Linked DNA regions of Homo sapiens. The gene in region 1 interacts genetically with each later gene. Each region holds a gene or a part of one and is shown in the gene's direction. Other genes may lie near its edges.

The links.
Region 2: changes in BOD1L1 (region 1) and CIT together harm fitness less than expected from each alone (positive genetic interaction), as found in Homo sapiens cells (one large-scale study listed by BioGRID).

What each region holds. Positions count from the first base shown.
Region 1 is NC_000004.12:13,568,726-13,572,225, reverse strand, and holds the end of BOD1L1 (biorientation of chromosomes in cell division protein 1-like 1), read left to right. Parts: intron 1-1,786; coding exon of another isoform or gene 1,787-1,790; exon of another isoform or gene 1,791-2,091; intron 2,092-2,097; coding exon 2,098-2,215; 3' UTR 2,216-3,488; downstream 3,489-3,500. UniProt on the Homo sapiens protein: Component of the fork protection machinery required to protect stalled/damaged replication forks from uncontrolled DNA2-dependent resection.
Region 2 is NC_000012.12:119,713,321-119,716,820, reverse strand, and holds part of CIT (citron Rho-interacting kinase), read left to right. Parts: intron 1-2,486; coding exon 2,487-2,624; intron 2,625-3,096; exon of another isoform or gene 3,097-3,172; coding exon 3,173-3,353; intron 3,354-3,500. UniProt on the Homo sapiens protein: Plays a role in cytokinesis. Required for KIF14 localization to the central spindle and midbody. Putative RHO/RAC effector that binds to the GTP-bound forms of RHO and RAC1. It probably binds p21 with a tighter specificity in vivo.

The sequences.
Region 1 (3,500 bases):
CTCACCACCAGCACCCCTAGTAAGTCAGATCCTTTCCGTCCCGCTTCAGCCCATTTTCATCTCTTCTTGCTGCACTTCTGGTCAGTACTGGGCACTTGAGATGCCACATAGCATTGGTTTGGTATATTCCTTTTATTTACCCCTCTGAGCTCTAGGTTTCTTTCTTGAGATAGGAATTTGTCATACTTTCTATACATTATCATATTCAAAAATAAAAGACTCTTCACTGTACACAAAAACTGTTTTGACCTCTTACCACATTTTCATCTTCACAGCATACTTGTATGTATGTGCTGTTTTCCGCACATTCTAGAAACGAAAGCAAACTATAGTGCCAGGCAGTTTCACATACATGCTCTCATTTAACCCTCAGTGAGTGAATTGTAATAGTTACTCTTATTTTATATGTGAGGGAAAGAATCTCAGGAAGGTTTCCATGCATACTACTCAAAATTGAACATGCAGTCAAATCACTTGAGGCTGTTGGTAAAATGCAGATCCTGGGTCTGTAAGTCTAGGCTGGGGCCTGAGAGTTGGCATTTCCAACAAGCTCCTCAGTGACCAATGCCCCTCCTCACAGACCACATTCTGGGTGGACTAGAAGGGCCTGGATAAACTACGAAGCTCACATGGCTGGGGAGAAGCAGCCTGACTCAGAGCTTCTGTTGGCTGCCACTTGGCCCCCAGCACAATACTGCGCACGGCACCTTTACTGAAGAGGTGTTCATTGAGTGGCTGGTGGCTTTCCATGGAAACAGTTTGAAATGGATTATCAACAAACACATTTTCAGTCATTGTCAACACATGTCAAAACCACATCATCTGCAACAATTTTTGACTCAGTTTATTTACTTTTGCTGTCAAACAAGAAACGGAAGACGTGTCTTCATATCACTAAGAGTCCCATTTCTCCATCTCCTGCAATTTTGGTTTTCCAACTCTTTGATTCATTGACAGGACATTTACTGCCCGCTTGCCATGTGTTGGGCATTGCACTAGGCACTGGAGTTAGAAAAATGAATAAATCTCAGCAGCTGCCCTAGAGAATCATCGTGTCTAATGGGGGAGATATATGTGTATAAGACTTTCAAACTTTTTTGGCAACAACCCACTATAAGAATATTTTGCAATACAGCTGGTGCTCACATTCCTGCTGCTGTAACTGAAACAAAATTTCATGAGTCAAATTTAATAGATGTGATATGAGTGGTATTTTCTGTTGTGTCCTATTAACATGTTGTTTTAAAATATTGATTGTAACTTGCAGTTTGAAAAAACACAGCAGATGAATCACAATGGTAAATGCTGTGGTAAAGACCTAAAGTCTTCATATCAATAAAGTCACATTTCTCTGTGGGGGATTCCAAAGATGGGGCATCTTGCTTTGTGATGTGGAAGGTGCAGGACTACAGGCCCAGATGGTGCACAAGTAGAAGGCAGAACTATAAAAGGCTCTGGATGATTTTCTCCTGAAAGCATCAGAGACCCAAGAGGAACTTCATACATCTCTAGGACAGTAACATGATTAATTGGAGTTTCCAACAAATAATTTTAATCACAGACTATATCAACAGGGTATGCTGGTGATAGGGAGATTGGTTAGAATGTTCTTCTGAAATTCCCGTGCCTTTTCTAACACAGGTATTTTCTGTAATACTGTGCTACGAAACATGATTTTGCACTTGGTCCAACCTAGATTGCAGTCCTGCTGTGTTCTTGCTAGTTGTTTGAACTTGGGACAGTCTGTATATTGGTGGGACCCGCTGTTGATGTCTTTGTTTTCTAGATGAAAGAACTAGGGCCCAGAGAAGGAAGTGGATTTGAGCACCATCAGCACCTAGAGTGTGGTAGAGCTGGAACCAGAGCACAGGCTTCAAACTTCTCTTCCAGTGTCCTGTGTTTGTGTGTGAGGTTGACAGCAAATAACCAGTTAGTTCAAGCTCTTCGCGAGGTAGCTCCTTTTCATGTATAAATGTTACTGGGTTTTTCTCTTCTTAGCTGTCAAGTTCAAAACTCTTCTGTTTTTTAAGGAACTCCCAAGTTATTTGAAGCAGCTGCTTTTAAACCTCACCATTGCCTTGACTTTGCTTAATGCAGATCAAAGACACAGCTCTCCCCTTCTATCAAGCGCAAGAGAGAAGTCAGCCCTCCTGGGGCCCGAACAAGAGGCCAGCAAAGGGTGGAGGAAGCCCCTGTGAAAAAAGCGAAGCGATAATCCTGACCACTGCTGCCCTAGGCTTATGGAGGAACACGGTGGAGAGGAAAGAGACATGCCTTGGTGGCCATAGGCTTCTCTTTAACCAGGAAAAAGATATGCATGTGCTGTAAGTCCCTAGGTGCAAGCTTTTTCTTGTTATGTTTTAAACAGCTTTATAAACTATTGTTCATAGAAGATATTATGTACATTTATTTCAGATAAAGGACAATAAGTTTACTTTGTATCTGAACTCAAAACAAAGTAGTTGTATATTTTAACATTCAAAATTGGGATTTCCCAATGTGACACATCATGAATGCAAACCCCTCCAGCCCATCAGACGCCAGGCTGCCTACTGGTAATCTGTGTATAGTATATAAACATGTAAAAATAGGTTGTATTTTACTCTATGTATGATGCTAATCAATGAACACTTTATTTATTTTACAGAGAAAACTTATCTGTGAACTTTACTATATATCTGTTTATTTTACTTTATTTTTTTTTTAAATAAAAAGGGTTTTAAATGCTATGCAGTCATTAGTAGAAAATTTTTTAGGACTCTGCCTGCTCTGTAACTATCTTAATATGATCTGGCAGAAACTCGCATGTATCCAAGTAAAGTAGTTTAGCTAAAGAAAGGTTCTTCATTGCTTTTCTGTTCACAGTTGTGGCTCTGTTTTTTAAGAATGTAACTTGTTTTTAGATTATACTTGCATCTGTGACTTTACTACCAGCCACGTTGACACAAAACAGGTTCTGGTTCAGGTAAAGTTGCGTCAGTCACCTGCAGCAGAAATCCCTCTTCATTCCTCTTCTCTGTGTTCATTCCTCTTCTGTGCTGTTCTGAAGCTTCTACCAATACTCTTTCCATATTGTCTTTTTCAGTGAAGAGAAATGCATTCAAGATTAGGTCCCTCCTGTCTATCCAGTTTCAGGATTTTATGTTGTTTTATACACAGTTATTTCAGTATAGAAACTGGCTTTATTGCCAAGTGTTTTTTTAAACATGTTTTAACTCTCATATGAGCAAACTGTCCAACTTCAGTTTTTCATAAGATTAAACTTCTTACGATCAAATTTGTCTCTTGCAATGATGTGATGAGTTGCCAAATAATTGAGATTATTTTAAAATGTTTTGTTCATATTCTTGTTTTATAATTAAAATTTACATTCAGTGTGTATGGGTTTTTTTTTTTATTTTGACTCTTAATGTAAGGTGGATATTTCTGTCATTTTACATGGTTTCTTACTGAGATTTTATATATAAATTATAAAATGTTTACCAAAATTTGAGTGGTAA
Region 2 (3,500 bases), on another chromosome or scaffold:
CTGTTACTGTAAACACCTTGCAGAGGACATCCTGTGCCTCTGTGGGTGTTGTGCCTGGAGAAATTCCTGGGAAATGAATCACTGGGTTAAAGGTCATGTACATTTTGAGTGCTGGTAGTTTGTGCCAATGTTTATTTCTACCAACAGTGTGAGGAGTTTTCTTGCTGGTCTCAAATGTACTCCATTTACCTAGAGATTAAAAGGACTTAAGAAAAGGCCAAGGAAGCTGTTTGGAATGTCTTAGGAACACTAGGGTAGAGCTGTGGTTTAGCAATCATGGCATTGCAATCAAACCTGTTTTGGTTGTAAACCAGATGGTGTTTTCTTGTTGCTGTTGTTTTTCTTTAGCCTGAAGTCATTTTCTTCCTCCTGTGTTTATATAACTCCTTGAATCAAAGAGCTTTACTTTTTTTTTTTTTTTTTTTTTTTTTTTTTTTTTTTTGAGACAGAGTCTCGCTCTGTCGCCCAGGCTTGGAGAGCAGTGGTGTGATCTTGGCTCACTGCAACCTCTGCCTCCCAGGCTCAAGCGATTCTCATGCCTCAGCTTCCTGAGTAGCTGGGATTATAGGCATGCGCCACCATGCCTGGCTAATATTTTTATTTTTAGTAGAGATAGGGTTTCACCATGTTGGCCAGGCTGGTCTTGAACTCCTGACCTCAAGCGATCCACTTGCCTTGGCCTCCCAGAGTGCTGGCATTACAGGTTTGAGCCACTGTGCCCAGCCCAAGAGCTTTACTTTTAAACTCATTAAAATGGTGATGACAAGATAGAGGAAAGCATTGCTTCTGGCTGTGGTGTCCACTGAAATGTCCCTGAATAGTGATAGTACTACAGTATATTGCTCCTTTGTGTATACTGCACCACACAGTTTCAAAGTGCATTCCTGTTATTTATTCCTTGCACCTTTCCAAGAAAGGAAGGGGGGTGATGTTGTAAGGAGAGCCTACCGTATAGTCAGTCAATCTCCTACCAGTAACATGTTCTTAAAGCCTGATTCCTAATCACTGGATAATGGAGATTTTAAGTTGAGTCTTATAAATCTAGATGCATCTGTTAGTGTTAATACTTTCAAAATCTGTAACTAACCTGTTCTAATGGTTTTAACAGTTTCATTCAGATGTAATTTGCATACCGTACAGTTCGCTCATTAAAAATGTACAATTCAGTCTTTTTCAGTAAGTTTACAGGGTTGTGTAACCCTCATCACATTCTAATTTTTGAACAATTTTGACACCCCCCCACCCAAAAAATACTCCATACACATTATCAGTCCCCCGCCATTCTCCTTCCACTAATGTTCTTCTTAGCAACCACCAATCTACTTTCTGTCTCTGTCGATCTGCTCTCTTAGACATTTCATAAAGATGAATCATACTGCATGCGGCCTTTGTGTCTGGCTTCTTTCATGGAATGTAATGTTTTCAAGGTTCACCCATGTTGTAGCATGTATCAGAACTTCATTCCTTTCATGGCTGAATAATACTCCATTGTGTAGATGGCACATCTGATTATCCATTAATCCATTTTCATTAGTCCATTTTCACACTGCTGATAAAGACATGCCCAAGACTGGGTAATTTATAAAGAAAAAGAGGTGTAATAGACTCACAGTTCCATGTGGCTGGGGAGGCCTCACAATCATGGTGGAAGGCAAAAGGCATGTCTCATGTGGCGGTGACAAAAGAGAATAAGAACCAAGCGAGAGGGGTTTCCCCTTATAAAACTATCAGATCTTATTCACTACCACAAGAACAGTATGGGGGAAACCACCCGCATGATTCAGTTATCTCCCACCAAGTCCCTCCCAACACATGGGAATTATGGCAGCTGCAATTCAAGATGAGATTTGGGTGGGGACACAGCCAAACCATATCACCATTGGTGGACATTTGTGTTGTTTTCACTTTGTAGTTGTCATAAATTATGCTGCTGTGAACATTTATGTACAGATTTTTGTGGGTACATATGTTTTCAGTCCCCTTGGATATATAGCCAGGAGCGGAATTGCTGGGTTCTGGGGTAACTATGTTTAACCTTTTACAGAACTACCAGACTGAGTTCCAAAGTGGCTGCACCATTTTTACATTCTCACCAGGAATGTGTGAGGGTTCCAGTTTCTCCACATCCTCATCAACACTTATCTTCCTTTTTTTAGACTGTAGACATCCTAGTGGTTGTGAAGTGGTGTCTGCTTGGGGTTTTGATTCACATCTCTCTAACGACTGATAATGTTGAGCATCTTTTCATTTGCTCGTTGGCCATTTATCCTCTTCGGGGAGGTGTCTATTTAAATTCTTGGCCCATTTTAAAATTGGGTTGTCCTTTTATTATTGAGTTGTAAGAGTTCTTTATGTATTCTAGATATGAGTCCCTTATCAGAGATTTGATTTGCAAGTATTTTTTCCCTTTCTGTGGGTTGTCTTTTCACTTTCCTGATGGGATCATTTGCAGTACTCTAATGATTTTTTAAAACATTTTCCTCCAGAATTTAGTCGGCGTCTTAAGGAACGCATGCACCACAATATTCCTCACCGATTCAACGTAGGACTGAACATGCGAGCCACAAAGTGTGCTGTGTGTCTGGATACCGTGCACTTTGGACGCCAGGCATCCAAATGTCTCGGTAAGATCAGTAGTTGTGCATCTGTGCTGGGCACCTGTGCATCTCCAGCTTAAAAAGTCTATCAGGTGGAGGTGATTTTTTTCTAACTCATCATATAGTGCATTCATTTTCGAGCTTCTTACTTCAGTAGGAGGATGCTATTTTTCCCCTGTTGAAGCTGTGAGTTTATATATGTCTGCAGCTCATGACTCCAGCCTGCTGCTCAGAGTGCCTTAGGCTTTGCTAATTTCCAGCCCCTTTTTGTCAGGCTGGTCTCTCCCTACCTTTCCGCTGACTCCAACTGAAACATGCAAACGTGTTCTTTACACACCTGTTTGTGGGCGGTCTGGATTGAAGCCTGGAAAACTGGGTCAAGAGCACTTGGCACTTTTGTTTTCCCTTTCTGCAGGGGCCTGGCACCAGGGGAAGCTCAGGAGACTACCTGCAAGCCAGGGCCAGACTCTCTGGGCCCGGCTGGGGTAGAGAAGCCCAGGCGTTGGCTGGCAGAGGAAGGGAAGGGTCCAGGGTCAGCTGAGCATGCCCTCAGGTTGCTCACTGTTCTTCCCTAGAATGTCAGGTGATGTGTCACCCCAAGTGCTCCACGTGCTTGCCAGCCACCTGCGGCTTGCCTGCTGAATATGCCACACACTTCACCGAGGCCTTCTGCCGTGACAAAATGAACTCCCCAGGTCTCCAGACCAAGGAGCCCAGCAGCAGCTTGCACCTGGAAGGGTGGATGAAGGTGCCCAGGTACCATGTCAGGGTGGCTTGGGCTGGAGCAGGTGCTGGCACAAGCCACTCTGTCCCTGATGTTTTCTAGGGAAGTGTCTTTTCTAGGAACTCTGCCACCCCCTCATCCTATCCTCCAGCCGGATGTTTCTTCTGAGTTCAGACATT